7 linked regions of the Homo sapiens genome follow. The protein of the gene in region 6 interacts with the protein of the main gene of each other region in a biochemical or structural test. Each region holds a gene or a part of one and is shown on either strand. Other genes may lie near its edges.

Region 1 (4,475 bases), on a different chromosome or scaffold from region 6:
CTCCCCCACTGACAATAGAGCCCACCCTCTGTAAGTCAACTGATGCAGTGCAACCAGGGCAGCTGCCCTAGCAACAGGAGGCACTCTTCCTGGCAACCACTCCAAGTTCCCGGGCAACTGAGGCGCCGTCCTGCTGCTCTGCCCAGTGCTCCAGAAATGAGGGGTCAAAACAGCCTTCCAAGCTTGCCTGTCTCCAAACTGGGGCTTCAGCCTGGCTTGGGTACTACCTCGATCTCCCCTGTACCCACCCAGTGACATTTCATCACACCCTCGCCAGTCCTCATGCCCCATGCTCCCTCTACTCCTGCCCTGCTGGGCTTTCTGCTCCAACACACTCCAAGCACACTCCCCGCTGGGGTATCTGCATCAGCCCTGCTCTGCCTGTAATACTCCCCCACAGCCCTCCTGCGGCTGGAGCCCTCCACCCTGGTGACATGCAGGCTCTTCCAACTGGCTAGGCCCCACCAGGACAGACCTCTCTCTCAAGCCAGATCCCAGCATACAGCCCAATAGGCACTGCCCTGTCCCTGCAGGTGTTCGTCTGGCCCAGCCTCTGAACCTGGATGTGAGCATGCCCGCCTGGCTCCCAGCCCCCTCAGATAACTCAGCTTTGTGGCTAACACAGGAGGCCCTGCCTCCACTGGAGGCGTCCCTCCAAACCTTCCCACCTCTTACGCACCGTGAGGCCGAGCAAGCCCTCGGCCTCTCTGTGCCTGTCTCCCCCAACCTTGCCTGACATGACCCATGGCACTTCCTCCCATTCTAAACCCTCAGCAGGTGTCCTGGTGCTGAATCACCCTCCAGGAAATCCTGCACCTAGGGGCCTGTTTCCCCATCTGTTCCCTGAGGCCCTCCAGGCCTGCTTGATGGCTCAAAGCTTCACTACCAGGGCAATCCTGAGCCCAGACATCCCCCAGTGGAGCTGGCTTCATCTCAGCCCACTCACCTTTGGCGGCCTCAGTTCGCTTGGGCAGGTCTAGCGTGTCAAAGTTCCGGTCCATCTCACCATCCTTCTTTCCTGGAAGGGAAAGGTGGTGGGAGGTGAGGCAGACCCCATATGGGGAATGGGTGTATCAGGAGAGTTGGGCACAGTTCTCTCCTACCCAGGCCCCAAAAGGCACCCCCATGTCCAGGCCTGGGCACCTGTGGGAGTGGAGCACCGTTGTCAGAGTTTGGGCAGACAGTTTAGCCTAGGGGTAGGAGTTGGTGGCAGTGGGGCCTGGGGATGTCCCAGCCCTGCCCCTAGGACTCATCTCCCACCAGGTGCTGGGAGCTGTACCACAGACCCTCCCGGTGGCTCCCTTGCAACTGCCAGGTATGTAGACTGAGGGAAGCCAGGAGCCCTGGCTGGATGGTAGGTGGATACAAGCCAAGAAACTGAAGGCTGACCAGGACAAGACTCACTTGGGTCACACAGTAAGGCAGAACTAGGGGGAAACTCCCCCAGCTGGGGTCAGGACATTGTCCCAGGATCTACTAGCCAGGAGAAACCCCACAGCAGCCCACCTAACATTTGTGTAGCCCTGGCTTGCACACGTCTGTGACAGTGAGCCCACTGTCAACCACTCTCCCCATGTCAGATGATGCTTCTACCCCTTCAGAAGGCAGCAGAGTGGAGCCAGATGACCTGGGGTCCCTGCCCTGCTCACCCTCATGGGACCCTTGTATCCCTCCGAGCCACATGATGCCCCATTCTATCAGAGAAACAGACTGCTCCTTGGTGCCCCTAGAGATAAGTACCCCCGGGCCCTGCCCACTCTTGGCTCTGCCCAACTCTGCCCAGGTAGGCAAGTCTGAGGTTACAGAATGAGCCCCGTGGCCTTCCCACCTGCCACTGTCATAAAGATGGCAGCCCGAGTGATGAAGCCAGGGGTGGGGCAGGGCCCTGGGGCTGGAACGTGCTCGCCTCTTCCCAGGTACCCACTGCACACGCCAGGCCTGGAGAGCAGGATAAAAAGGGACTCACCTTGGTGGAACCACTCCTCTGGGAGGCCGGAGGAAGCAGAGGAGAGAGGAGAGGAGCCTGAACAGGCAGCACTCATCACCCCCCCATGCCCTCCCGGAAGCCTCAGGTTCCCACTGCACACCCTGGATCAAGCAGGCAGCATGTGGAACCTCATCCCATCACTTCTGGGCACTGAGCACCCACCAGGGGTACAAGAAGAGGGAGGCCTGGGGTCAGTGGGGCAGGGGCAGGTGGCGTACAGGTCCCCCACAGCTGCTGGGGAGGTCCTGGGAACCTACACCCTGCTAGTGCAGTAGAGAAGGTGTGCAGGGCATCTTGCCCAGGCAGATGGGGGGCTGCCCCACAGGTTGGTGGCAGTCTACAGCTATTCTGTGAACAGTGAGCAGGCAGCAGCCATGGCTCCTTCCCAACTCATGGGCAAGTGGAACTCTCCCCGGAGTAGAAAGACTGGGTCTGGGCATTGGTTGGTTTCCCTTGTGTACTCCCTGGGGGTCCCACAGTGTAGATGGGGAAGGTTGGACCTGGGTCCCATCAACCATGTGACCCAGGGCAGTCCAGCCTCCTTGACTCCTGGCTTCCCTGCCTGCCTGTTGGGGGCTGACCAGGTGTCCTCTAGCCTCCATGATGGGCTGCTGTGGGTGTACAGAGAGCCTTCCGCTGGGGCAGGAGTTGAGATGGTAGAGATGATACCCCAGTCCGCCCCACCCACCTTTGGCCTTCTTGCCTCCAAAGCAGCTGGCATCATCCCGCCTCCGGCGCTGGGAGCCTACAGCACTGCCCAGGGGCCCGGGCTCGGCCTCCTGGTACCTGTCGGCCCCGGGCACCTCCTTGTGCACGTGGTAGGACAGGTTCCGCATGATGCACACGCAGTTCTCCACCGACTGCAGGGAGAGGTGAGTGGGTGGGGCAGGGCACCCTAGGCACAGGGCTGGCCCTCAGGAAAGACTGGCCACAGCTGGTGTGCATGAGGGCACCGGGAGCAAAGGAACAGGGAGTCCTCAGTGGAGGGGAGCAAAAGGGCGGTAACCGCCAGGAAGGGTCCATGGGAGGAAGCCTCTGCCCTCACGGCACACCTTCTGCCTGCAGGACGGTGCCCACTTCAGTGTGGTCACTGCGAGGCGGGCCACACCCAGAACGCCACCCCAGACCCACAAGCCCATTCCCCTGTGCTGCTCCCACAGTTCCAGCCTCCTGGGACCTGCATGATCGTCTCTCCAGCCCTTGGTATGAGGCTGTGACCGTCCCTGCCCACCTTGTTGTCAGTGTCCTTCCGGCCCACAGCCGACTGCAGGGCATGCAGGAGCGCGTCCACCAGCCCTTCACACTCCCGGAGTCGCCGCCGGGCCTCAGCACCATCGGAGCTCACATTCCTGTGTGGCCAAGAGCAGGCCAGGTGACCCCTGGCTACCAGAAACTCCCTGGCTCCACCCTGGCCTTGTGGGCTTGTCTTCATCTGCAAAATAGGCCCTGCTGCTGCCCTCCTAGCACTAATGGGAAAGGACCCCACAGTCTGGAGCTCAGTGAAGGGGGAGAAGCTAACTGCCCCCAGGCCTCAGGAGGGGAGCCCTGGCAGACAACTATCTTGGCTGGGGATAGCTGGGCAGGGAAAGACAGGGTTTCCCTGCCTCCCAGCTGACCTGGAAAGGGACAGGTGCACTCTCAGAGAGACCTGAACCTGTGCAAGGGCAATTCTGGGTCCCTCGCCACCCCAATGGCAGCTCTGGGCCCCACCTTACCCCAAGGTCAAGAGCCTGCAGGGCTGCGCGGGAACACCCTGATGGACAAGCAGGACTGTGGGGACCCAGGACTCTGTGGGGTCAGCAGGGCCTCCCAGGGGTAGGAGGGGAAGGGCAGAGGTCACAGGTGGCTGGGATGAGCCTCCCAGGCAGATGAACAGGAAGGTCCCAGCTCCCCCTCTGGCTGTCAAGTGATGGGAAGGTAGGTGAGAGCTGGGCAGGGCTACGGTACCACAGAGACCCCTCCAGAGGGTGCCCCTGGGAAGACTGGGACACCACTTGGGGGTGAGGACAGCTCCATCAGGCCCCACTTCTCATCCACAGGACTTGTGCCACAGCTCTGAAGCTCCTAAGCTCTGGCGCTCCTAAGCTCGCCGCCATCTTCCACACTATCTGGGACCACGAGGACGGGGCCTGGTGTGCATGTGGGCTTTAGCACCAGGTCTGGTCCACACCTCAGGCAGCCCGACGTGTTCTTGAAGACAGTTGTCCACTCGGCGTCCCGTGGCTTGGAGTCCTCGTTGGGCTCACGCTCCCATCCTGAGTGGGGCACGATCACCTCGTGGGTCAGCGTCTGCAGGCCATGGTCAATGATGACCATCTTCAGGGGCTCATAGGATGACAGGTTCCACAGGGTGCCTGTGGGGTGCGATTGGCCAATCTGTGCTGACCATATGCACCGCCTGCCTACCTCCCCAGGTGGCCACGCTCAGGACCTGTCCCACTCTCCTCATGTCCCAGCTCATGCAGAACAGTAGGAAGTAACAAAAGCC
Region 2 (4,475 bases), about 11 Mb from region 6:
AAACAGTTATCAAGTGAAGCTACTCTCTAGGGTTCTATTGAAAATGTACCAAATTAGTCAATTCAGTAAACTTAGCAAAGAACAACAACAACAAAAGGAACAAGTTGGATTTTTTGGGGTGAAGATAAAATACTTTGCTGAATTTCTGACTTCCCCAGGTTTTGTGCATGTTAGGCTAAGGGGTCACAATCACCACGCAAACAAGATCGGCAAACACGTTCCTTCTTCCTCTACCTGTCTGGCCTGCAGTGATAGATCCCTGAGGGGACAAACTAAACTCTGACTGAATTAGAGGTTCCTTTAAAGGCTGTTTCCCTGTGATGAACTAAGTCTAGGGTCACTTGAGTGGGGATTAGGGGCTCTGGCAGGCTCATTAATTCTCTGAAATAGACTGGCAGGACCTGGACTAGGCAAGGAGGCTCTGACAGTGAGGGAGAGAGAGAGCCAGCTAAGAGTTTTACTACGTAAATTAACCACAGAGCAACGCCTTCCCTCTTCGGTTTGTTTCTTTCTCTCCACCAAAACGATCTTTGGTATGTCACATATAATTTGGCATTTTGGTTAACCAATTCAAGGAAGAGAGAGAATGTGGGAAGATGGAGGTGTGGGAGGATGGCCACATTCCACAAGGGACTGACTGACAAGTCTCTGGTTTCCCAAATGCAGTTGTGCAGACACTGGCAACCAAGGACCGGTGAGGGTAAGGCAGAGACTGCAGCCCACTTTTGTGTGGATCCACAGACCCTTTGGGAGCAATTTTCTTTAAACATCTTTTAATTCAACTGTCTCCCCTCTCAGGTACCTGAATCTCTCTCATCCATGGAGTGTCACCATTTTCTGAGGCTGAAAGTTCTTCCACTAGCACCGATGGGAAAACTCCAATACGCCCATTGAATTCCCCTTCCCAGAAGCCATCATCATCTTGGTTTTCTTTGTTCAAGATACGGATTATTGCTCCCTCAGGAAAAGATAACTCATCATCTGTCTGGCCCTCATAATCATAAAGTGCTTTCACAAAACATACTAGGGAGCAAGAGAAAAACAAATCTGGTAAGATAATTAACAGCCGGTTGCTTTTGCAACCACCCCTATGCTCACATGACAACTAAAAGAGCATCATACAGAATAGGATTAAAGTTGTAATTTTTTTACTCACTGATGAATGATTAACTTTAGGGTTCTACTGTGCAGGACAAACGTGACCATATAAAGAAAAGCATATTATAGGACAGGAGGAAAGTTGTGCTTTTTATCCTACTGAAGGCTTACTCCAGGGCAATACAGTTTAGGTCAAACGTGACCAAATAAAGAGTGCCTTGTTTCAGTCTTTACCACTGGCATCTCCGTTGAGGCTGCCTGAAACGAGTTCTGCTTCCGTGGAATTGCTGGACGTGTGTGACCGACTGTCCAAAGCGGCCAGGGACTGCAGCATGCTCAGGAGGCTGTTCGAGGTGGGAAACTGTAGGTACTTTTCTGGCACATAACCCACTTGGCCAACTTTATTTCGAGCCTGGGTAAAAGACATGTGACAAAACAAGTTTACACACACAATTTAGACAGGGCACAACAAAGACCAAAACAAACTCCTAAAAATGTCACAAGAAAGGGCGATATGAGCAAAGGAATATACCTTTACCCAGTCTTCCATATCTCCATCTTCAATCACTTCTAACACCTCATGTTCCTCAATGGTCAACTCATCTGGTTGAGAAGCCTGCAGTGTAGGATGGTCATGGACAAAATTAAAAAGGTTAGATAAGGAGCAGATGTGAGCTGATCATGACAAAAACTGGGGATCAAAATATTGAAATGATTTTGAGAAACATGTTGAACATAAAAATTTAAATGCTGTAAAACTTTCATAATGAGGTGAAGTTTTACTTTAAAAAACTAAACAGAATAAAACCATAACAAAAACTCAAGAAACTGAATCCTCAAGAGGCAATGACGTTCAATGAACAGAACATGTAAGCCTGGGCAACACAGCGAGACCCCCATCTCTACCAATAAATAAATAAATAAGTAAATAAATAAATAAAATTAGTCAGGCATGGTGGAACATGCCTGTAGTCCCAACTACTTGGGAGGCTGAGGTGGGAGGATCGCTTGAGCCTGGGAGGTTGAGGCTGCAGTGAGCCATGAGTGAGCCACTGCACTCCAGCCTGGGCAACAGAGCGAGACCCTGTCTCTAAAAAAACAAACAAAAAAAGAGAGCACTTCCTGGAAGTAGAGGACCTGGGTTCCAACTCCAGCTTCTGTATCAAGTTATTCAACTTGATGCCTCCATTTCTTTGAAATGACAATCCTGCCATTTTCTGGAGGATGTGAGTCAATGTGGGATGGATAAGCACAGAACTGTGATGATTTGGGAAGCAAAGGCAAACGAGAAGGCACTGAATTGGAACTGCTACCAGAGGGCTCCCATGGACAAGCATGCAGTGAAAATGCAAAGAACTATGTACGTGAATTTGATGATAGTGGGTGCAGTGCCTAGGATTGATCTGGAATCACTGTAAAGCAGTGGCCAAAAGAAAAAAATTGTAGGAAAGGAAATGATTGAGATCAGTCATGGTTTGGATTTCTTATGCTCCAACTTAACTGTGTGGAGACTGAGCTGATCCATTTGCGTGCTACCGTACAAGCTGCTAACCATAATGGTTTTATTATCCCTGACAGCAGCAATCCACCAGCATCAGCCACCCACATGTTGCCCTTGAGACTGCCAAATCTGTAAACGCTCTGAGGCTCCACAGAGGGGCTGGAAAGTCCGTGTGGCTTTGCTTCCTAACAGTCTTGCCTGTCATGTGTAATAGACAGGGGCCTGCTGGCTTCTGGCTCTCTAGAAAACAGTCTTAAAAGCTTTCCCCAAGTCCCAAGATGGGTTAAAACCATCACCTAAAACCATAAAGTTTTTAAAATCTCACAATCTCAAAATGTAAAATTAACTCCAAGTTACACAAACAAAAATAAGGCAAAAAAGGGGTCATTTTCAAGATCAATTTCCCATTTTATGAACATTAAAACATTTCATCAAAATCCAGATTCTGGATGTTGCCATAGCTCCCTGAGACAGAAAAATAATATTGAGGAAAAAACCCCACTCATTTACCCTTGATAGCTTTTCCAATGGAATTCCTTCACTACTCTGAAACCACACTATGCCTTGAATATGCCAGCAAAAGGCATTTTTGTAATAAAAATGTTTTTCATGGCAAGACCTAAAAAGTATCAACACGACCAGACGTTAATGTATGTGACAGCAAACCAGGGAGGTAGTACACTTTTAAATAAACTGCTGCCCTTATAAAAAGCTATGGAGAGGCTGAGTGAGGTGGCTCACGTCTGTAATCCCAGCACTTTGGGAGGCCAAGGTGGGTGGATCACTTGAGGCCAGCAGTTTGAGACCGGCCTGGGCAACATGGCGAAACCCTGTCTCTATGAAAAATACAAAAAATTGGTGGGTGTGGTGGCACGTGCCTGTAATCCCAGCTACTTGGGAGGCTGAGGTGGGAGGATCACTTGAATCAGGGAGGCAGAGGTTGCAGGGAGGCAGAGGTTGCAGTGAGCCGAGATCACACCACTGCACTCCAGCCTGGGTGACAGAGCAAGACCCTGTCTCAAAAAAAAAAAAAAAAAAAAAAAACAACAACAAACAAACAAAAACCATGGAGGTCCATGCAAGTTTTTCAACACTGCAGCACTAGTTGTCCAATGTAAGCAGACACTAGCTTGATCATCCCATCCTAAAGCAGTGATGACCAATTCTTCCACCTAACAAGGTCAAGTTCTTTGCATGGCTATCAAGACCCTGCAGAGTTTGGTCCCTGTGGGCCTCTTGACGCTTTGGCCCCTGCACACTATTTCTATTCTCTGAGCATACCATGTTCTTCCTTGCCTCTGTGCTTTTATAGGTGTTCTTCCGTCCATCAGGCTCTGTTCCCTCTTTCCTATCTGATGAGCAGACTTAGATTACTGTGGGTTTAAGTCCAGCTTCAGTATATTTTTATGGGCAAGTGACTGTAAGATACCTTTGAACCTCAGTTTTCTTTTTTCGTACTAGAATATAAGCTCAATGAGGGCAAAGATTTTTGTCTGTTTTGATCAATGCTATATCCCAGAGCCTAGAAAAGCCCACAGCACTGATACATGGAAGGTGCTCAAGCACTATTTGTTGAATGAATGGGGTGTTTGATAATATCTTCCTCATAGGGTTATTGAAGGGATTACAAATAAATAGATAGATAGATAGATAGATAGATAGATAGATAGATAGATAAGTAGTTACGATTACTTTTGACTTGAGACTGAGCGCATATGTTTTCCCAGACTACTCATGATGAGTAAGCTGCTCCTCCTTTTGCTCTTTTTTTTTTTTTTTTTGAGACGGAGTCTCACAGTGTTGCCCAGGCTGGAGTGCAGTGGTGCCATCTCGGCTCACTGCAACCTCTGCCTCCCAGGTTCAAGAAATTCTCCTG
Region 3 (4,475 bases), on a different chromosome or scaffold from region 6:
TTGAGCAGTTAAAATGTGCCACTTTATTTAATACTTCTGACAGCCTTTTTGAGTGTGTCCTAATAGCATCTCCAGTTTATACTTGGGGAAACTGAGGTTAGGAGATGTTAAATTAATCATCCCAGGATGTTAAAGTTAGAATTGAGACTGAAACTCAGGTAGGCTGACATCAGAACTCCAACTTCTAACCACCGTACTGTGTATTACCTGTCATTAAGCTGGTACATGCTGCAGAAAGACTTGTTACCATAACAAGTTTTGTGATAATTATTTTAAGTGACTAGGCTGAGATATGACAAAAGCTTCTGGCAATCCTGCTGTGAATATGGAATTGGAATAAGAAATTGAGGATAAAACAATGCATTCTTATCTAATCCTAGGTACTTCTGTTTCTGCAGTTGCATGCCAGAAATCCGAGATAGGGAGAGTACTAAATGCTAATTCGTGGTAGCCTAAACAAATAGTTTTAGTTTTCTGGAAGGCCGGTTTTTACCTGGTGAAGTTCCTCATGGTTTTAATGAGGGTGTGGTGTACTCTGATTCCTCTAAGGGCCAAGTAAGTGAAAGGCCCAAGTGTGGCTGACCAGGTGTCAGAGGCCTTAGGGAGTGGTGAGGCTTGCGCCCATCCAGGGGCCCAATTGTGCCCCTTCCCATGGAGCAGCTACCACTCGGGTCTGACAGGTTTCTGCCAGGTGGGCCTAGGGCCCAGGATTACCAGTGCCTCCACATTTTCAAGAGAAGCATGAAATCCAGATTTATTTGGAGTCTTCTCATTTTAAAATGTTTGGAAATAATTAAAATGGAAAACAAACCTGTCAGCCCATGGTGTGGCCAAACAAAGCATGTTTGTGGTTTGACCCAGGAGCTCCCATGTTGAGCCTTTTGTTAGCTGTAAGTGCTTGGAAACACCGTGTACTAGAACATGTCAATAGTTTTTGTTTTGCCCTTTAATTTTTTTGGCTGTAAAATTTCTTATAAAGGTTGTTATGGTCATTTATTTCCAGTGTACATAGATTTCAGATTCTGAATTTCTGCTTGTTTATTCTCTCCCTATACCCTATTTTTCCAAGCTGTTGGCAAATACACAAAGTTGAGGGGGGAAGGGCATGTTTTTTCCTCCTGTTTCATGGTGCTCCTTTAAAATAAGAACACCTGGCCGGGCGCGATGGCTCACGCCTGTAATTTCAGCACTTTGGGAGGCCGAGGTAGGTGGGTCACTTGAAGTCAGGAGTTTGAGACTAGCCTGGCCAACATGGCAAAACCCCATCTCTACTAAAAATACAAAAATTAGCCGGGTGTGGTGGCAGGCGCCTGTAATTCCAGCTACTCGGGAGGCTAAGGCAGGAGAATTGCTCGAACCTCGGAGGCAGAGGCTGCAGTGAGCCGAGATCACATAACTGCACTTCAGCCTGGGTGACAGAGTGAGACTCTGTCTCAAAAAATAAATAAATAAATAAAAAATAACACCCAAGTGTACAGAAATAGGTGACTTCATTTATGGAGACACAGAGGTTCTCTTGCCTGCCTCACTGATTTGAACTCTAACCAGTCACAAGATGTCCCCCCTGCTATTTGGTAGTAGCTGTATTTGTCCTGAAATATAGAATACAGATCTGTTCCTGCAGACCAGTGTTTCAAGATGCAGTCCGCTTAACAGCCCTCATTTTCCTTGTTGCTTTTAAATGAGAGACCACACTGGATCAAATGAAAATGCAGTTCCTTCGGGATGTGTTTCTCTCATATCTGCCAAGATGCTATTATTGGACAAATCACCAAAGCCCTCTCTGGGATTTCTTTTAATTTTTTTTCATTGGTTTTTTAAAATGATGTAAGTAATACATTAATATGTTCCAATTGAAGTGATAATGCAGAAATATGGAAGCAAAATGCAAAGTACCCTTTTCCACCTACACCCATTCCCAGATACAGTCATTGGCAATAGTTTAGAATGCCTCTTTCCCTCCTTTTTTCTGTACATTTACATGTATAAGTATATATACATGTCATTTTCTTATTACATATACTGGATCATATTGTATACATTTTTGTCTGTGACTGACTTGCTTTTGTCCACTTAACTGTATATCATGGAGAGCTTTCCATGTCAATATGTTAGTTATCTTGTTCTTTCTAACATTGCATAAAATTTGATAGTACGGATGTACTGTACTTTATTTAACCATTCTTCTGTGGACACTATTGCAAACTGAAAGATTCAAGATCTTTGTTCGTAGGTCTTTGTGCACATGTGTGAGAATTTTTTTTGTAGCTAAATTTCTAGAAATGGAACTATTTGGTCAAAAGCCTATGCACACTTCAAATTTTGACAGAGCACTGATGAATTGCCTTTAAAAAAGGTCTCCATGAAATTTGTGGAACCTCTGATTATGCAGCTGAACATAGCCTCTAATTGCAGCATGTCCCACATTGTTACCTCGCTTTACTAATTCAGTAAGATTTCACTTGTATATGGCATACCAGGAAGTGATTTTAGAAACAGACTATGTCCTTAAAATCCCTTGAAAATACAGTTCTTAATCAAAACAAATTGATCAGTTAAGGGGCTAATGTAAAAACTCTTTTAAGAAAGACATATCTTGTAGAATCAGAGAGTTGAAAATCTATTTTCTGATCAATTTGGTGAGCTGTGAAACTCTAGACCCTTCCCAGCAGGGACATGTCCATAAGCACCCTTTAATCTGTTGTTAGAGAAGTGAGGTGGTCCACAGCCAACACAGACAGATCAGACGTTGATACTGGCCTGGGAAAATTAATTTCATTGCTGAAAAATCCTATCCAGGTGTGTTTGTAGCTTTAGGTTTTCAAATACTAGTTATTTAAGAATCTCTTTTGCTTTTTACTTAAAGAATGAGAAGATTAGGAGATAATGCTATTTAATGAGTTTTATTTAATGGATACTTGAATTTAATGTCCTTGACTCTTATTTTTTTATATTTTATTTTATTTTTGAGACAGGGTCTTGCTCCATTGCTCAGGCTAGAGTGTAGTGATGCCATTATGGCTCACTGCAGCCTCATCTTCTGGGCTCAAGCGATTTTCCTGCCTCAGACTCTCGAGTAGTTGGGACCAGAGGCGCACACTAGCACACCTGGCTATTTTTTTCTGTTTTTGTAGAGACAGGGTCTCGCTATGTTGTCCAGGCTGGTGTTGAACTCCTAGGCTCAAGCAGTCCCCCCACCTCAGCCTTCCAAAGTGTTGGGATTACAGGTGTGAGCCACTGCGTCTGGCCTGGCTATGTTTTTTTGAAATGATATGTTGATAAAGGACTATATAAATTAGAAACTATACCTTCTTTTCTTTTCTTCTCTTTTCTTTTCTTCTTCTCTTCTTTTCTTTCTTTTCTTTCTTTTTTTGAGATGGAATGTCACTCTGTTGCCCAGGCTGGAGTGCAGTGGTGCGATCTCGGCTCACTGCAACCTCTGCCTCCCTGGTTCAAGCGATTCTGGGTTACAGGTGTGTGCCACCAAGCCCGGCTAATTTTTGTATTTTTAGTAGAGATGGGGTTTCACCATGTTGGCCACACTAGTCTTGAACTCCTGACCTCAAATGATCTGCCCTCCTCAGCCTCCCAAAGTGCTGGGATTACAGGTGTGAGCCACCACGCCTGGCTGCTACACCATGTTTTCTTTTAAAGAGATATTGGGAGAAATATTGCAGGAAATCTAGGTCACTGATTGATTCCTAACTGTGTTCAGAAGGGACTACTTTGATAACTGTAATTGTTATTAATGATATGAAGTAAATTATTTGTGAATTTTACCACATTCCTTGAAAGACTGAGACTCAGTCAGGGTTAGTGAGTCTTGATTAGATAAATGACAGCAAAGTGAAATACTGTTTCTGTTTCCCAAAGATGGATTTAGTCCTTTCATCTGTTTCTCCAGATACTCATTTTTTAAGAAAAATTCTGGTTTGGTTGGCAGTGACATTCAGATTCTGATTGTATGCCTTCTGCATGTTTATTTTTACAACACACTGTGAATTGTAGAAATATGGTGGGACAGTCATATTTCCTTGGCATTGAAACCTTGCATATTCAAGAAAGTCTGTGCTAGGTTTTGCTCATGGAAATGTTATAGTGTTTCACAGTTTACAGACAATTTCCTTTGATAATGTCTGTGAAAGCACAGTGGAGGGCACCACCTGGTCACTCTTTCAACCTGTATCATTCAGGGCCCTGCTGGGGAACAGATGGCATGTGTACGCCAAGTCCTTTGAGGAGGGCTTGTTAAAGGGACCTTTTGCAAGGTGTGGGCAGGTGTAGGGAATACAATCAGGGTGAATGCTAAAGAAAGACCCAGCAGTGACGGGGAGTTAGTCCTACTCTAAGGAAGGGGCAAGAAAGGCTGACAAGAGCTGTATCCCTTTCTAGAGGGACCCCGTCTGCCTGTAATATCCCTCCAGGGAGACAGAGGGGAATATATATACCTTCCTCACTCTCTGCCTGTCCCCTAA
Region 4 (4,475 bases), on a different chromosome or scaffold from region 6:
TCAAATATAGACACAGAGAGGTTAGAAGTAAAAGAATGGAAAAAGATACACCGTGCAAGCACATATCAAAAGAAAGCTATTATCAAAAAGACAATAGAAAGAAGAAAATAGACTTCAAAACAAGGAATAGCATCAGGGACAAAGCAAGACATTAAATAATGAAAAAGGCTTCTATTCCCCAAGAAAACATAGTAGTTCCAAATGTGTATAACTAGAAATGGAGCATCAAAATATGTGAAGTAAAAACAAATAGAACTGGAGGTAGAAATGTGGACACTGTGGACAAATCTACAATTACAGATAGAAACTTTCACATTCCTCCCTCAGTAACTGAGAGTAAAAGTGAACAGAAAATCAGTAAGGATACAGAAGAACTGAATAACATTATCAACCAACCTGGCCTAATTAACATTTATAGAACACTTTACCCAATGACAGAAGAATACATATTTTTTCAAGTGCTTATGTACATGAAGTGAAACTATATTGTGGGCCATGATATACATTTAACAAATTTTAAAGAATATAAATCATATAGAGTTTGTTCTTAGATCATAATGGAATTTAACTAGAAATTAATAATAGAAAGATATCTAGAAATTCCAATATTGGGAAATTACATAAACTTCCAGAAAACCCTTGGATCAAAGAGGAAATCTCAGGGGAAAATTAAATAATACTTTGAAATGAATTAAAATGAAAATGCAACATATCCAATTTTGTGGGATGCACCTAAAGTAGTGCTTAGAAGGAAGATTGGCCAGGTGTGGTGGCTCACGCCTGTAATCCCAGCACTTTGGGAGGCCAAGGTGGGCTGGATCACTTGAGGTCAAGAGTTCAAGACCAGCCTGGCCAATATGGTGAAACCGCATCTCTACTAAAAATTCAAAAATTAGCCAGGCATGGTGGCAGGTGCCTGTAATCCCACCTACTCAGGAGGCTGAGGCAGGAGAATTGCTTGAACCCAGGAGGCAGAGGTTGCAGTGAGCTAAGATTGTGTCACTGCACTCCAGCCTGGGTGACAATGCGAGACTCAGTCTCAGAAAAAAAAAAAAAGGAAGATTATAGCACTAAATGCTTATATTAGAAAATAAGAAAGGTCTCAAATCAGTAATTTAAGTTTCCTCCCTAAGGAACTAGATAAAGAAGTGATTAAATTAAACCCAATGCAATCAAAAGGAGGAAAATAATAAAGATAAGAGGATAAATTAATGAAATTGAAAGCAGGGAGAAAGTAGAGAAAATAAACGAAACCAAAGGATGGTTCCTAAAAACTAATGTAATAAATGAAAACTGAGGCATCACTACAAATCATACAGGCATTTAAAGGATAATAAGGGAACATAATGAACAACTTTCTGCCAATAAATTCAAGAACTTAGACAAAATAGAGAAAAGCCTTGAAAGACACTAACGACACTCATTCAAGAAGATATGGATAACCCACATAGCCCTATATCTATTAAAGAAATAAAATTTGGCCAGGCCCAGTGGCTCACACCTGTAATCCTAGCACTTTGGGAGGCCGAAGCGGGTGGATCACCTGAGGTCAGGAGTTCGAGACCAGCCTGGCCAACATGGCAAAACCCTGTCTCTACTAAAAATACAAAAATTAGCCAGGCATGGTGGTGGGCACCTGTAATCCCAGCTACCCGGGAGGCTGAAGCTGGAGAATCTCTTGAACCCAGGAGGTGGAGGTTGCAGCGAGCCAAGATCGTGCCACTGCACTTCAGCCTGGGTGACAAGAGTGAAACTCCATCTCAAAAAAAAAAAAAAAAAAAAGAAAGAAAGAAAATTTGTAGTTGATAGCCTTCCCAAAAAGAAAAGTATAGGCCCAGATGTTTTCAATGGTGAGTTCTACCAATCATTTAAGGAAGAAGGAATACCAATTCTACACAACATCTTTCAGAAAATACAAGAGGAGGGAGAACTTCTGATTTCATTTTATGATGCCAGCATTATGCTAATATCAAAACCAAAGATAGCATAAAAAAGGAAAACTGCAGACCGATATCCCTCATGGACAGAGACAAATATCTTCAGCCAAACTATCAGCAAAGCAAATCCAGAAATATATGAAAAGAATAATATGTTACAACCAACTGAAGTTTATCCCATAAGTTCGAGGTTGGTTCAACATTTAAAATCAAGCAGTGTAATTCACCATAGTAACAGACTAAAAAATAAAAAACATATCATCATTTTTATAGATGCAGGAAACACAACAAAATCCAACTCATGAGAAGAAGCCTCAGCAAACTAGCAAGATGGGGGAGCTTCCTCAATTTGGTAAAAGGTGCCTACAAAAAGCCTACAGCTAACATACTTAAAAGGTGAAAAATGGAATGCTTTCCCTCTAAAATCAAGAAAAAGTCAAGGATGTCTGCTCTCGTCATTTCTATGCAACATTTATAGTATTGCAGGTTGCAACTACAGACAAGGCTATTAGAACTAATAAGTGAGTTTAGCAAGGCTATGGGATATGAGGTCAGTGAAATCAATTGACAAACCAATCCTAAAATTGCCATAGAAAAACAAAGGACCTAAAATAGCCAAAACAACTCTGAGAAAGAAAAAGTTTGAGGGCTAAAATAACCTGATTTCAAGAATTATTGTAAAGCTACAGTCATTAGTCATTAAACAGCATGTTGTTGGCATAAAACAAATAGATCAATGGAACAGACTAGAGAATCCAGAAATAGATCTACATGGATATGGTAAATGGATTTTTTTTTAGATAGTTTTGCTCTTGTCGCCCAGGCTGGAGTGCAATGGTGTGATCTCAGCTCACTGCAACCTCCACCTCTGGGGTTCAAGCAATTCTCCTGTCTCAGCCTCCCAAGTAGCTGGGATTACAGGTGCCCACCACCATGCCTGGCTAATTTTTTTTGTGTTTTTAGTAGAGACAGAGTTTCACCATGTTGGCCAGGCTGGTCTTGAACTCCTGACCTCAGGAGATCCTCCAGCCTCAGCCTCCCAAAGTGCTGGGATTATAGGCGTGAGCCACTGTGCCCTTCAGGTAAATTGGTTTTTGATGATGTTTCAAAAGTAAATCAATGGAATAAAGGCAGTCTACTCAATAAATAGTACTGGAACAAATGAAATCGGTATGCAAGAAAAGAAACCATGATACAAACCTCACAGCTTTTATAAAATTTACTCAAAATGGATCATAGATCTAAATATAAAATATCTAAATATAAAATATAAAATTATAAAACTTTCAGAGGCCAGGTACATTGGCTCACGCCTGTAATCCCAGCACTTTAGAAGGCCAAGGTGGAAGGATCACTTGAGGCCAAGAGTTGGAGACCAGCCTGCGGGCAACATGGAGAAATCCTGTCCTCTCTACAAAAAATACAATTAGCAGTGCATGGTGGGGAGCAGCTATAGTGCCAGCTACTCAGGAGACTGAGGTGGGAGGATCACTTGAGCCCAAGAGGTCAAGGCTGGGTGACAAAGGATCTTAGGCTAGATGAAGAGTTGTTAGATTTAACATTAAATCCATGATTCATAAAAGAAAAATTGTATTGGGGATTTCATTAAAATTTTTAAATTTTAGTTCTTCAAAAGAGGATGAAAAGACAAAAACTATGGGCTGCTAGAAAATATTTGCAAATTAAATATGCAACAAAGAACCTATATCCAGAGAACCTATATCCAGGGACAAAAACAGTGCCTGGCTCTTGGCATTGTTTTGAAAACTAAATGAGTTAATACAAGTTCTTAGTGTAGTGCCTGGCACATATAAACATTCAATAAAAGTGAACTATTATAGCTTTATTATCACTGTTATTATAGGACTCTTTAAAATGGATAAAAATAGATGCAAGCCAAATGTTCACCAATAGAGAAATTGTTATATTATATGTATTACAAGGAATATTTGACAATGCTTTAACGAATGAAGTAAATCTATATGTACTAACCTGGAAAGATGTCCAGGATGTTTGTGAACAAAGCAAATTGCAGGACCGTTAGTAGAATATGATCCCAGTTGTGCAAAAAGAAAATTATATATTTTCTGAAAAATTTTGTAGAATGGTACTCACTGAACGGCTCACAGTTGTTATCCCTGGGTTGGGGAGTGGAATAAGGAGGAGAGCAAAGGGAAGGTAGCGGGGTAGGGGAAATTTAAAGGGGGTCTTCACTTTTCATTCTATTTATTAACATAAGAATATATTTCTTGTGAAACAAAAAATACAGATGAAAATAACTATCTTTTAAAAGACCAGTGATAAAAAATAACTTTCTGATTGTCTTCACTGATGGATTCAAGTGGATGAAGTACAAGCCTACTTTGGACTGAAAGGTTTACCTAAAAACTGCCTGAGCTTCCATTTGTAACAGCAAACATTGATGGAGTGCTGCTTGCTGGCCTGGCAGCACGAATAACTGAGTTATTGTCCTGGTTGTGCCAATAACTAGTTTTGCTATGTTACTATTATAAATGTTAAACTATAAACTGGAATCAA
Region 5 (4,475 bases), on a different chromosome or scaffold from region 6:
GCTATACGCCATATGCTGATTTCTAGCATTAGCATTAAAGACCAGCAAACAGACAAACTGTATTTGTTGGAAAAACTGTATCTTTTAACAAATCACTATGCTTATTGAAGTTAACTTAAAAACAAGAAGACAATTTCAAATATTCAGTCTCATTGTCCCCCCAAAAATCACTGTAAATAATTCAGAAATTTCAGTAATCAAAAACAACTTCTCCCCTACTCAGTAGTAGTAAAAAAAAACTTTATAGGTCGTGTGAGTTTTTTTTTTGTTTGTGTTCTGAGATTATGACCACAAACTGAGCATCTGGCCTTGTCTACTTCTCTACTTTACTCAAGTGGTTCTCTATATTCTTTTTAATATGAGGTGTGATTGGCTATAAAAATGCAAACATACACCACATTATATATCAAAAAAAATTCTATAAAATATTTTTGGAGACCATACACCTATTATGATTCTAGTACCAATGGTCAAAACTACTTCATTGGAAATTGTTTTAGTGTTGAGGAAACATTCTACCTTATATTTCATCAACAGCAGTAAACCCAAGTCCTTGGGGATGAGTTTTAATTTTAGAGTAAGTAAACTTGGAAACTTTATTTTTTTCTGAAGCAAAATGAATCTAAAATAATAAAGACTTGTTTGATTTCTTGAGAAATGGCAGGGTGTAGAGGAGAGAATGTGGAATTTAACTAAATCTGCACTTGAACCCCAGCTCATTCTCTCCCAGGGATGTAACCTTGATCAAGTAACCTATATCCAAGATGTTTCTTCTCATTAAAAGGCAATAATAAAGATCCTGACATTACAGCGTCTTGGATCCACATGGTACCTCTACCAGTGCAAGTATGAGAACCACAGAAGGCCGTGTAAAGGCTCCCCCTCGCCTCTCCCACCGTGCTTTACTTATAGATGGATTCTGACAGCACTCCCTAAAGAAGGGTTCAGAAATACTTTGAGCAATGCCACCAGTACTGAAGTAAATGGATCAGACCCCAAGATCCTACTCTGAAAACAGTGCTTATTTGGATGTATAAGCTTTGGTTTACTTCCAAAAATACCATAGGGACCACTTAACCCTAGGGTGTAAGAATAACAACAGCATCAACAGCAGCAGCAATAGCTAGCCTATGTTGTATTTCTATGTTATACATCAGTAGGATAAATGCCTTATCTATATTAATGATGTATATTAATATATGAATTCATTTATTCTTCCTTAGGACCCAATGCGGTAGATGTCATGTATTTTTATTTTGCAGCTATAGAGATGAAGTCACAAAGATTAAGAAAACTTGCCAAGGTCAAAAACTGTGACTATCAGTGCTAGAATTTTTGCCCAGACCAGTAAATGTTAATGGAATTACTGATGAGAAAATATTTTACAGTTCTTATTTCTTCTCACTTGTGATGCTACCCAACAATGGGTGAGGGTCTATTATGGCACACAGAGACACAGGAGAATATGTATCATGACAAATTCAAAGACAGTGTGCCTCAATGGAGTTAGTCTGCAGAAGGACACAAGGAAGCCTAAAATTAATATTCTGAATATTCAGGTTGACATCAATATGTCACAAGCCATAATTTTGAGTGGCCTACTGCACTCATTGCTGTGACTATTTTTGCTTAATTGTGATTAATAATTGAAAATATTTTTCACAATGTGAAAATATACTTTGCTGCCAAGGGCTCAAAATGGTCACAGAAAGGACTCTGCTAGTCAAACTTAAATTACACTTAGTATATCTCATTTTCATGAATTTCACTGAAGCCATGCTTTCCTAGGTATGAGTTTAAGGATAAAGAACAGGTGGAGAGCAGAGTCACTCCTCTGGCTTCCAGTTATATTCCTAGCAGAAAGTGGGAAACAAAGGATAGTTTCTAGTACAAATCAAGCTAAAAAACCAGCTGGATGAAATGAGGCTGGAAGAAGTGAGGCTGCCATTCAGGGGCAGCTGCTCTGTGCCCACTTGGACTTACTTTGACTATCTGATGCCAGAGAAGCCCAAATGCAGCTCCATCATTGCCCTGCCCCTCCCAAGTTTAGAGGCCAATGCCCAAGCCCTTAGTTTTGTCTTTTAACAAAGACAAAGCTGAGATGGGCTACCAAAATAATCAAATTGAACTTTAGCTTTTTATTGTGATGCAGGGGAAGAATTCATCCAGCTGGGATCGGAGTGCTATGTACCCATTCCCAGAATTGGGGAGATTTTTGACCCTCCTAAAAGGAACAATGTTCAGAAACATGCTACAACTCTTTATTGAATGTTTACAGCGGGCCAGGCGCTGTGGATGCAGAAACAAGGAAAGTCTAAAACTCCTGCATTCCCAGCACTTACATTCTACTGGAGAGATAGGTGATAGTGGAACAATCAAAAACATGTTCATTTTGTACGGCAATTAATACTAAGGAGATAATAAAACAGGGATATACTAGACTGTGCCAGGGTATAGGTGAGATTAGGTGGTCTCAGAAGGCATTTCTGAGAAGCTGATATTTTTGCTGAGACATGAGTGACTCAAAGGTGCCGGCCATACTAAGATTTGGAAGAAATTCTTGCATTTTCTGCTCCCTCTGCTAGGAATGAGCCAGGATTAATAAAGGTGCAGGAGGTGGTAATGCGGTTGCAATACAGTGAATGAGGTAAGAACAGTAAGGAATTTTGACATAAAGGTAATTGCAGGGCTAAATCACCTACAATGGAGGAAACTAAGGAAAGAAGATTAGATTTTAAGTGAGGGGGAAGATATTGGAGTATTCTAAGTGTAGTAGTGATAAGATATGGTTTGAGTTTTTAAAATACCATCTCGGTTGCTGTGAGGAGAATGAATTTTAAGTGACAAGGGTGGATGTGGAGAGAGTTCGATTCCTGGAGTGATACAAACAGCTGAGAGATGGAAAGAAGTGATTTGACTTAGAATGTGTTTTGAGGGTAGAAACTGCAAGGACTTGCAGATGGCCTGGATCTGACAGTGAAAGAAAAGGAGAAACCAAACCCTTCTGGCAACTGAGTGGATAGCTGTGTGTTTTATTGAAATTAGAAAAACTGGGCAAGGGACTCCTTCCAATGAAGGGGATTCAAGAAAAGCTTTGCTTTGGCTGCCTTAAGTTTGATAACCCTGATAGTGAATCAAGAGGAGATGAATGCTGAGTAGACAGCCAGACACATATGTGTCCAACCAAGAGAAGGGGGAGGCCAGGGCCAGAGGTAAATATTTGGAAATTTGGGAGTAATTGTCTATAGGTGAGATTTGAATTTCATTAAGTGAGATTTAAGGTTGTTCTCCATTGCTGTTATTAGGGGGAGAAAAAGGAAACAAGAGAGAGGTCACGTAGAAGAGCACAGTGAGAGTGCATGTGGCTGGAGGCAACAGCAAGGCAGTAGCTCTCTAACCTCTGTCAATGCCCAGCACAACTTCTCCAGTAGTTTCCAATACAGCTGCTCAGTGTAGATGAGAAGAAGCCCCCTGAGAGATGCTGCTCTGATAGATCAGTGACTCTCTCTGTGAAAATGCCTCAGCCTGTCCTCCTTCCAGGAATGCAGACTTCCCATCTGGCCCAGTAACTGGGATGGATGGGCCCACAGGCCAGCAGATACACCTCCTATCTCTGCGTCATGCTTCCTCTCCTAACTTCATCTTCACCCCACCCCACCCCACAGACAGGTGAAGACCTGGTTGGAATTGGTAATGAAATGCCAAACAACTCACCACTCGAAGTCCCAATTGGCACAGACACAGGGTTCTGAGACCACTGATCCTGAGTGGTCTCGGCCCAGGGCACACTGAGCTCCTGGCTTACGTTTCTTGAATATTTTCCTTTCTCCCATGACACAAGGCTCTCCCTTAGAGAGAAATTCCATAGTGTGAGAGACAGAAAAACAAAAAGGTGGTGAAATAAACCAGTTGTCAACAAGAAGCATTAGCCTGTTCATTCTCATTTAGGTACTTTATGTAGCAGTCTCATTCTCAGTAATGATCCAGGAGTTTCAAGAATAAAAGTGCTAATCTTTCACTACCACATAAAAGGAACATTATGGAAGGTGGGCCCACTTCTACCCTCCACCCACCCAAGCCAGTGATGTCTACATCATCCCGTTTCTGCTCCACCTCCATAGAGAATGTAAGGACTCCAGGCATCTTTGCAGACCACCAGGTACATTTGCCCAAATGGCTTCAGTAGCAATTCTAGTGGAAAGGAGCCCATTTATGGCACATTTTTCACATGGTCTTCAGAGGGAAATTGAAGTTGACCCAAAATGTTCCTTCTCTATGATAAACGACCATGCCCAAATCTTAATTCCCAGTCAAGAACAAAGAAAGGAGAAGTTGATACAAATTACAAGGACCCAGTGGTTCTGGAGCAGAAGTCTGCCTATTTCTCACAGCAGTAAATATCTACCATTGCTAGACCTACCCACCCTGACACCATTTCTCAGTGGACCTGTTCCCAGTGCTCTGGGTCCCTTATT
Region 6 (4,311 bases):
TCAGGAATGGCATTCTGGTGTCAGAAAACTTCTGGGAGCAATATTGATGAAAGTAGGCCTTGACCTGAAACTGGCGAATTGCAGACATGGACATATCTTTAACATTTTGAGCAATCTAAGGAAGTCTCTGGAAATTTAACTTTCATGAGAGGGAGAATGCATTGCTAGCCCTTCCATTGGCAAAGGAAGCCTCAGGACTATGGGAAGATGCATAATTTTGCATTTCTGTTTTGTTTTGGTGACTGTAGCCAGGCAGACAATGATGTTTAGCGTAAGATGAACAATGCCTGTTTTTGGAAAGAGACTCTCATTCTAAGCTCCGATGTTCTTACTGTGAAGAAGCCCCATCACTCTGATGGCTCTATCTCTTGCTCTCCTACCCAGCCTACATGCTGGTTTGCTGCACAGTGTGGCAGAATCCCTGCCAGGTCTGGATGTACCCCAGAAATAAGGCGATGGGGCTTAGTCTGGGCATGCACAGAACCCAGAGTAGAGTGGTTATTATCACTGAAAAGTCTCTCCCCAAACACCATGGGCAAAAGCAATGCTGATGTCGCCATCCACTCTAAAGTGGGAAACCAACTCTTCTAGTTCAGTTTATAGGCTTTGGGAGGTTTCTTTTTTTAAATCATCGTTATTATAATTGTTAAAAAATAAACTTGGTCCAGGTGCAGCTCCAAGAAAGGCAGTTCAGTTGGTTGAGCTCAAAGTCATTAATTGTCTTTCCTTGTGACTCTATCTCTTTGCTCTGTACATAGAAACAAAAAAGTCTGCACCCCCTCACCCCCAACCAGACACTTCTCTTCTCTCTCTTCCTCAAAGAAATAGTGCATCTAGGAACAGATCTCTCATTGGCTCTAGTACCATCTCTGGATGTTACAAAACTCTCAGTTACTCTGTAAAACAAAAAGGTACTAATCCTAATTACTCATTGTTGGCCAAAATGCTAAATGGTCCTTTAAGAATTGTATGTCAGTAACTAGGAACAAAGTTATTCAACTATTTGCATGGCAGGCTCAGGTTATTTAACTAGAGGAAAGCAAAAACTTCCCTTTAGATCATTTGCATAAGTTTGTCTCTGAAAAGCCATCAGCATAAAAAAATGCATTAACCAAATGTCTTCCAAAAATATCCATGAGGGCAACTCATTAAGGGATGTGCTGCATGAGAGTGTATCACTAATGTGGAAGGGAGGTAAGTGAGGAAGAAGTCTTTGTCAGACTTAAAAGGAACTCAGATGCTCTTAACAGATCATTGGCAACAAAAGGGAGAGTGCAACTTTCAGGTCTTGAATTTGATCATCTGCTGATGTTGCATACATTTAGTCTTTCAATATTAGTCTTTACAAAATATTTCACAAAACTTTTTTAACCTATAGAAATTTGTTTCTATACATTTAATATATTTTTATTGTATAAATTATTCTCATCTTTAGTGCCTTCTTTCAGTTTATAAATGGCAAAATAGGCAATCAACAATCATAAAGCTAATCCCAGGTGGAATCCCCTCCTGTCAGTGAGGTTAGTCCTCCATACACTTGCAAATTTTATGAAATTCTTGTCTTTGCAGATGCCAGTCAAAAAACTACACACTTATCCTTCCCTGATAGTATGTCATCTCCAAAGGGATTCCTTTCTTTTTTCCTTCTTTCTTTCATTTGCTTGTTAAGAAATCAAAAGATGTGCATAGTTATAAAATTCAAAGTGTACCAATTACAGATGTGGGTAATGGGAAGGCTGATGAGGTTCGAGTGCTGGCAATTTTTCTTTAAAGCAAAAGACACAGAGAGCTCTGCAGCTAAATCAGCTCTGGACATCTGCTGGGGTGAGGAGGCTCTCATCTCATCTCTTGGGCAGAAAGCCCGTCAGAGGTTCATCCCTACACCTGGCACTTTGAGCAAACCAAAGCCTTCCTTCATACTGCAATGTCTTTTCTGTCCCACCCTTTGGCCCCTCTGTTTCCTTCATGGCTTCATACAGTTTGTGTTGTACATTCGTAAGAATTCACATTGACTGCAAAAACATAAATGCAACAAAAACATAAAAGCCTCCAAGTAGTATGTTATATATATTTTGTTCTTCTAAATGCTCTTCTGTCGTTGTCAGAGGCGCAGTAGCTAATTTATAACTTTTCCTTTGAGGGAATCCAGATGAAAGGCCCAGATTGCTCTTCAATAACAAGCTTGCATTGGTTATATATATCTTCTAAAGTATCTCCTTGGACAATAGCTGTAACAAAAGCAAACACACCCAGAATTAGAAATAATTTCCTGGATGGTGAAGAACAATCATCACTTACACATTGGAGGCTCAAATCAGTAGCAGATGACTCATCAGGAAGCTTCATATCATTTTTCATTAGTAAGAAGAAGCAGAAAATTCATATAAGCAAAGTTACATTCATGATTTTAAGAAATGCTTTCAATGGATATCCTGGATCAGTAACAAATGATTCACAGTCTTTGCACTTTCTACATGTCTGTCTGTAGTACTGGACAATTTATCACTCATCTATTTAACCAATATTTTATGGGTGCCTACTCTGAGCCAGGCACTGAGCTGGGCAATGATCAATTTTCAGACTGAGAGCTCCCTATTTAGAAAAGAAAACTGGCCTTACAGTCTGTATATTTACTTATTTTGGCAGCAGCAGAAATTCAGATATTGTAGACACCGAGGAAATAATGAAGATTTTAGAGGGAAGTTTAGTTAGCCTCCCAACCCTCAAAGCCCTTAATAGGAAAACCCATTAATTCCCCAAATCTCTGGTAACTTGAGATTTTTACCATACAGAGCTATTCATATTGAGAATACCATAAGTCCACTATTTATAAGAAACATAAACAGGAAGAAATATAAACAAACTGCTCAGTTGTGTATCTCCTAAAACACTAAGTCACTTGGAGTAGATTTAAGTACATTTTATTGTCTCATTTGAACAAAAGTTATCTTGTAGAAAGATTTCCAAAACACATCAGTATTATCCATATGACACTAGGTCTTAAAAATAAATTACTACTGAAAGATGATTTAGATATTTAAAAACAATCCTCAGAATATATTATTGTATTGTATACAAAATATAAACCACTGTCAAAATGTACACTTTTGTTTCTCCTACCTGGATGTTCTTTTAGGATGAAACACAGCTCGTATCTTGGTTACTGACAGAAAGATTACTTAATATTACCTGATTCAAGATATTTACAAACTGCTAAGGCACTGACACTTTCTATATTCTGAATAAGGTAAAAAATAAAACATCTAACTTCACATATGGTAATCCAGGAAGAAAGTTCTTGGGTTTTTTTTTTTTTTTTTTTTTTTTTTGAGACAGAATTTCACCCTTGTTGCCCAGGCTGGAGTGCAGTAGCACGATCTCGGCTCACTGCGACCTCCACCTCCTGGGTTCAAGTGATTCTCCTGTCTCAGCCTCCCTAGTAGCTGGGATTACAGGTGCCTGCCACCACACCCAGCTAATTTTTTGTATTTTTAGTAGAGACGGGGGTTTCACTATGTTGGCCAGGCTGGTCTCGAACTCCTGACCTCAGGTGATCCACCCACCTCAGCCTCCCAAAGTGCTGGGATTAGAGGCATAAGCCCAGCTCGAAAGTTCTTGTTTTTAAACCTCCGGGAACCAGGTGTAAGGCAAATTTCACAAAGTCTGATTACTCAGTGTTCTATGAAAGTATATAGGAATACAGAACTCAGAACTCAGGCTCTCCAGAAGAAAACCTCTATTCCCCTTCATGTTTCCAAGGAAACATTTAAAAAGAAAAAAAAAGCAGTTTTGGTTGAGACTTGACACAGTGAACTGAAACATGAGGAAGTTTTAAGCATCTTGTTCAGGTGCTGCTGATAGGGACACTGATGAAAGCTCATGGAGCTGGGGACGGACGCCTCCAAGCTTCTTCTCAAGAGTAACTGCTTTGGACACTGACCATTTTGAGCCCTAAAATTTTGTTTTTCAAGTTTTCTGATGATATCAGGGAGATAGTTTAATGAGGTAGCAATGCCTCAAATCCTTTTCATGGTAGGAGATAGCTCAGGGGTATCTCCTGCCCATGGTTTTGGGTAGGGCTGGTGGGAACCTGGGAGCTGGCTGCAGCTGAACTCTCAGGAGAACCCAGGGTTTTACATCAAAATGGGTGAAGCAGAGGGATACTCCTTGTATATGAAACAGATATTAGGGATTCTCAACAGGAAGGTTTTAGGGCACAAGTACACCAGGCCCAGAACCCTCTCTGTGCCAAATGTCAGACAATTTATCCCCTTTCTCACACTACCAGGGTAAAAGTGAACTTACCTGTAA
Region 7 (4,475 bases), on a different chromosome or scaffold from region 6:
GAATGGACTTTCTAAGCAGAGGGGGCATTAAGTGCAAAGGTCTGGAAAGAACAAAGTGTGGGGCAGTGAAGGAGCTGCAAGTAGATCAGTCTGGCTGGAGCTGGAGGTGTAGATGTGACTATGTAGAGGGTGGGAGGGATGGGGCTGAGGAGGGGAGAAAGATAAGGCTGGAATGGTAAGATGGGGCCAGATTGTGAAGAATCTGCATGCCCTCATCATAATCAAGAATTGAACTTACTGAGTTTTCACTCTGCTCAGTGGAGAGCAAAGCTTTCCGTAGGAATTGTGTATTTGCATCTTTACAATGGCTTTAAAAGCCTTAGAAGGCGTAAGTTCCTTGAATAACTTGTAAGTAGTAAAGCTGTCATCTGTCCTCCCAACCTTGGTTTTAGGAGAGATGTATTGTAGGTCACTCTTGCTTCAGTGTGGCAAATGGATTGCAGGTGGCAGGCCTGGAGAGAGGAGGCAAAAGTTGCTAGCCTGTCACATTGATCTGGGTGAGAGATGGTGTAGTAGAAGTTTTTAGGATTGATGCCTAGATCACAACTGTTTACTCTTTTCTGGAAACAGTGCCAATATGGTGTGACCTTGTAACCCCCTCCCAACTTTGTGTCTCTAGTTGCTTGGTTCTGGGTGTGCAACAGATCCAGCCTGGGCAGTCAGAGCCCTTTTCTGGGACTGTTGGATCTGGGAACAAAGAATAGCCTGCTTTCTCTGGTGTTAGAGACTATCTGATTTAGGCCAGGTGCGGTGGCTCACACCTGTAATCCCAACACTTTGGGAGGCAGAGGCAGGCGCATCACTTGAGCCCAGGAGTTTGAGACCAGCCTGGGCAACATGGTGAAACTTCATTTCTACAAAAAATAGAAAAATTAGCTGGGCATGGTGGTGTGCACCTGTAGTCCCAACTACTCAGGAGGCTGAGGTGGGAGGATCGCTTGAGCCCTAGAGGTCAAGGCTGCAGTGAGCCATGATCGTGCTACTGCACTCCAGTCTGAGTGACAGAGTGAGACCCTGTCTCAAAAAATAAATAAACGATCTGATTTGAGGCTGGATGGCTGTGGGAAGCCATATTTCCCTTTGTGTAGAAGTAGTTGGTCTAGAAGGAAAGTAGATTAAGCCAGTAGAGAAAGAGAATCCTCCTGGCATTTGAGGTCCAGTGGCACCCACTCTTCCTGTAGTGTGGTTATGGGAAATAAACCATTATCCTTCAAATACATTTTTCTGTTTTGCTTAAGCTAGTTTAAATTAGTCTCTTGCAACCTTAGGGGTCTTGATTAGTATAGATGGTGAAGGTCTAAACTAAGGCACTGAGTGTGGGGTTGGGTGATCTCACACTTTAGGGGGTAAACTGGATGAAAAATGGTAGCTGTGTGACTCAGAGGGAGATGGGTGCCTTGGTAGAGTAGAGATGAGGATGGTGTTCTACATGGAAGGAGCACATTGAGCATAGGCGGGAGTGTGGAGCAGCACTGGGGGAGTGTGGTGAATTTGAGTTCTTCTGCTTGGCTGGGCTGTGGGGTGAGCTGGGGCTGGTATAGAGGGAGAGCCAGATCCTGCAAACCTCACTGAGGCCTTAGGCTTGATCCTAGAAGGAGTGGGAATAAATGAAGGTAGGTGTTGGTGATGACTGCTAATACAAACCCTCACTGCTTTCTAATGATAGAAGCATCACATTCCAGAACATGTAGGAGATAAAGGTTTTAAAGAAAATAAAAATTACACTAATGCCCATCACCATTTGTTCTTTTTTTATTTCCAGTATTTAAAAATGTATACATTTAAAATAGCTGAGATGCTGTATATATAGCTCTTAATCTTTTACCTCACTTCTTCTATCATGAGCATTTTTCTGTAACACATTTTTTGAGACATTTTGATGACTGTATATTATCCTACTTTGTGAATTTTTATAATTTATATAATATCCATTTCTAAGATTTTTGTTCTTATGGATAAAATTGTTTTACTTAAAATCTTAAAATTTTGTTCATGTTTCTCATGTTTTTAGAATAATTCCTAGAAGTGCAACTATGGGATCAAATAACATCATTTTTTAAAATAATAGTTTTTCACCCCAAGAGTATAAATTCAAGTTGTTCTGAATATATACTCCCTAAAAGTAAGGTATACTGATTTATACTTTACATGTAATAACATTCACCCTTTTTAATGGACAGTTCTGAATTTTGACAAACGAATGATTGTGTAACTGCCACAACAGTCAAGATATAGAACAGCCATTAACTCGCCAAATTCTCTTGTACTCTTTTGTAGCCATCTCATTCCCCTGCCTTAGACCCTGGCAGCCCCGATCTGTTTTCTGCCCCTGCAGTTTTCCTTTTCCAGAATGCTATATAAGTAGAATCATATAGTGCTATAGTTTCTGCCCTCTGGCCCCCAGAGATAGATTTCCTTCCTGTGTCAAAACATATTCACTCCATCGCAAGGCCTCCCCAAAAGTCTCAGTTCATTTCAGCATCAACCCAAAGTCCACAGTCTCATTTAAATCTCATCATCTAAATCAGGTATGAGAGGGTCTGGGTGTAGTCCATCCAGAGGCATGATTCCTTTCCACCTGGGAAACGCAAGAATCAAGTTATCTGCTCCAACTTAGAGTTAGGGAATGGGCATGGGATATCAGTTATAGACAGTCCTGTTCAAGGGTGGAGGAAAAGGAAGGCAAAGAGGATTCACCAGTCCCAAATAATTTCATTTTCATAACAGCCAAAGTTTTCAATTTTGACGAACTCTGGTTTATCAGTTTTCTTTTTTTATGCACCATGCTTTTAGTGTTATATCAAATCTTTCTTAATCTAAGGTCACTGAAGTCATCTATATTTTCTTCTAGAAGTTTTGTACTTTCAGACATTATATTTAGGTCAATTTTGAGTTAGCACCTGTATGTGGTACAAAGTATGGATTGAGGTTTATTTATTTGCATTTGGATGTCCAGTTGAATATAATAAAATTTCTACTCTTTTAGAACTTATAGTTATGGTAGACAGACAATAAGTGAACAATATGTCATTTTTTGGATGGTGGCAAGTGGTGTGGAGAGCAGTGAAAGCAGGACAAAGGGTTGAGAGTGCAGGGTGACAGTGAAGCCTGTGTGGGGTCGGTACCCTGACATCCCACATCCGGTGAGACTTTGTAACCAGGTGACCTGACGGGGTCAGGGGGTAAGCCGTGTGCATGTCCTGTGGAAGAGAATTTTAGGCAGACAGAAAAGTAGCACAGAGGCCTGGCGAGGTGGGACGGTGCTCAGTGTGGCCATGCAGCCAGGAGGGTGAGAGGGGGTGGTAGGAGCTACAGTCACAGGTGTCACACAGGTGAGAGGCTTGCCACTGAAGAGTTATCTTGGCCAAGGTAAAAACATTTGATTTTACTTTGAGCACCCCGAGAAGCCCTTAGAGGGCTTTGAATAAAAGAGGCCATGCTCTGACTTAGTACTGCTCACATTGTGGTTCTTCCTCAGTGTTGTCAGTGTCACAGGGAGCTGGATAAAGATGCAGAGTCAGGGGCCCCACTCAGACCTGCTGAGTCAGAATCTCTGACGGTGGGGCCCAGGAATCTGCTTTAAAAGCTCTTCAGGTGATTCTGATATATGTTAAAGTTTTAAAAAAAGTAATGTAATTTTAATTGACAAATTATATATATTTAGGGGTACAATGTGATGTTTTGATACATGTATCCATTGTGGAATGATCAAATCAGGCTAATTAACATATTCATCACCTCCCATACTTAATTATTTATTTGCAGTGAGACCATTTAAAATCCACTCTTCCAGGTAAAGTGGAGGCAGGGAGGCCAGTTAGGAAGCGATGATAGTGACGCAGGTGAGTCACGGTGGCTCGTCCAGGGTGGCAGTGATGAAGTGGTGAGTAGTAGTCAGATGTGAAATGTATTTTACAGGTAGAGCCAAAAGCATTTGCTAATAGATTGAGTGTAGGGTGTAAGAGGAAGAGGTAAGTCATGAACAATTTCAATGCTTTTGGCCTTGGAAGAATGGACCTGGAGCTGCCGTTTACTGGCATGGTGACAGCAGGAGGAGCAGGGGAGCATTTTGGAGTGGTGATGAGGAGGGTTTGGGGATGGATGTGGAGTTTGGTGTTTGGATAAGTTAAGATGGAGGTGAGTGTGAACCTAAGAGACATCACGGCAGCTTTTTGACACCTGAGCTATGGAAGCCGTGGGAAGTCGTATCTTCACTTCTGCCACTGGAGGTGTCCTTGCATGAGGTTAATGTTAAGAAGGATATTGTATTTAATAGTAACTTAATTTTTTCTAATTATAAATTATGTGTATTTTGTCTAATTTAACAGGTATTCAAATAAAGTTAATTGCAGCTTTCTGTGAAAATGTCAGTTTTGATATCACAGAGCGTCATAAATTATGTAGAGGAAGAAAACATTCCTGCTCTGAAAGCTCTTCTTGAAAAATGCAAAGATGTAGATGAGAGAAATGAGGTA

Evidence for each region.
Region 1: the proteins of DLG2 (region 6) and ARVCF interact in a test that uses a peptide from one of them, tested with the Homo sapiens proteins (one large-scale study listed by IntAct).
Region 2: the proteins of DLG2 (region 6) and FCHSD2 interact in a test that uses a peptide from one of them, tested with the Homo sapiens proteins (one large-scale study listed by IntAct).
Region 3: the proteins of DLG2 (region 6) and PLCB4 interact in a test that uses a peptide from one of them, tested with the Homo sapiens proteins (one large-scale study listed by IntAct).
Region 4: the proteins of DLG2 (region 6) and GAB3 interact in a test that uses a peptide from one of them, tested with the Homo sapiens proteins (one large-scale study listed by IntAct).
Region 5: the proteins of DLG2 (region 6) and SORCS3 interact in a test that uses a peptide from one of them, tested with the Homo sapiens proteins (one large-scale study listed by IntAct).
Region 7: the proteins of DLG2 (region 6) and KIDINS220 interact in a test that uses a peptide from one of them, tested with the Homo sapiens proteins (one large-scale study listed by IntAct).

Annotation. Positions count from the first base shown.
Region 1 is NC_000022.11:19,974,740-19,979,214, forward strand, and holds part of ARVCF (splicing regulator ARVCF), read right to left. Parts: intron 4,342-4,475; coding exon 4,158-4,341; intron 3,337-4,157; coding exon 3,219-3,336; intron 2,848-3,218; coding exon 2,676-2,847; intron 1,985-2,675; coding exon 1,967-1,984; intron 1,939-1,966; coding exon of another isoform or gene 1,838-1,938; exon of another isoform or gene 1,829-1,837; intron 1,019-1,828; coding exon 947-1,018; intron 1-946. UniProt on the Homo sapiens protein: Contributes to the regulation of alternative splicing of pre-mRNAs.
Region 2 is NC_000011.10:72,841,819-72,846,293, forward strand, and holds part of FCHSD2 (F-BAR and double SH3 domains protein 2), read right to left. Parts: intron 1,923-4,475; exon of another isoform or gene 1,715-1,922; coding exon 1,631-1,714; exon of another isoform or gene 1,511-1,630; coding exon 1,333-1,510; exon of another isoform or gene 1,024-1,332; coding exon 803-1,023; coding exon of another isoform or gene 799-802; intron 1-798. UniProt on the Homo sapiens protein: Adapter protein that plays a role in endocytosis via clathrin-coated pits. Contributes to the internalization of cell surface receptors, such as integrin ITGB1 and transferrin receptor.
Region 3 is NC_000020.11:9,075,032-9,079,506, forward strand, and holds part of PLCB4 (1-phosphatidylinositol 4,5-bisphosphate phosphodiesterase beta-4), read left to right. Parts: intron 1-4,475. UniProt on the Homo sapiens protein: Activated phosphatidylinositol-specific phospholipase C enzymes catalyze the production of the second messenger molecules diacylglycerol (DAG) and inositol 1,4,5-trisphosphate (IP3) involved in G-protein coupled receptor signaling pathways.
Region 4 is NC_000023.11:154,744,291-154,748,765, forward strand, and holds part of GAB3 (GRB2-associated-binding protein 3), read right to left. Parts: intron 1-4,475.
Region 5 is NC_000010.11:105,200,493-105,204,967, reverse strand, and holds part of SORCS3 (VPS10 domain-containing receptor SorCS3 precursor), read right to left. Parts: intron 3,849-4,475; coding exon 3,715-3,848; intron 1-3,714. UniProt on the Homo sapiens protein: Plays an important role in modulating synaptic transmission and plasticity in the hippocampus, probably by affecting the trafficking and localization ofAMPA-type glutamate receptors in the postsynaptic density.
Region 6 is NC_000011.10:83,457,697-83,462,007, forward strand, and holds part of DLG2 (disks large homolog 2), read right to left. Parts: coding exon 4,306-4,311; intron 2,229-4,305; coding exon 2,122-2,228; 3' UTR 1-2,121. UniProt on the Homo sapiens protein: Required for perception of chronic pain through NMDA receptor signaling. Regulates surface expression of NMDA receptors in dorsal horn neurons of the spinal cord.
Region 7 is NC_000002.12:8,826,983-8,831,457, reverse strand, and holds part of KIDINS220 (kinase D-interacting substrate of 220 kDa), read left to right. Parts: intron 1-4,328; 5' UTR 4,329-4,364; coding exon 4,365-4,472; intron 4,473-4,475. UniProt on the Homo sapiens protein: Promotes a prolonged MAP-kinase signaling by neurotrophins through activation of a Rap1-dependent mechanism. Provides a docking site for the CRKL-C3G complex, resulting in Rap1-dependent sustained ERK activation.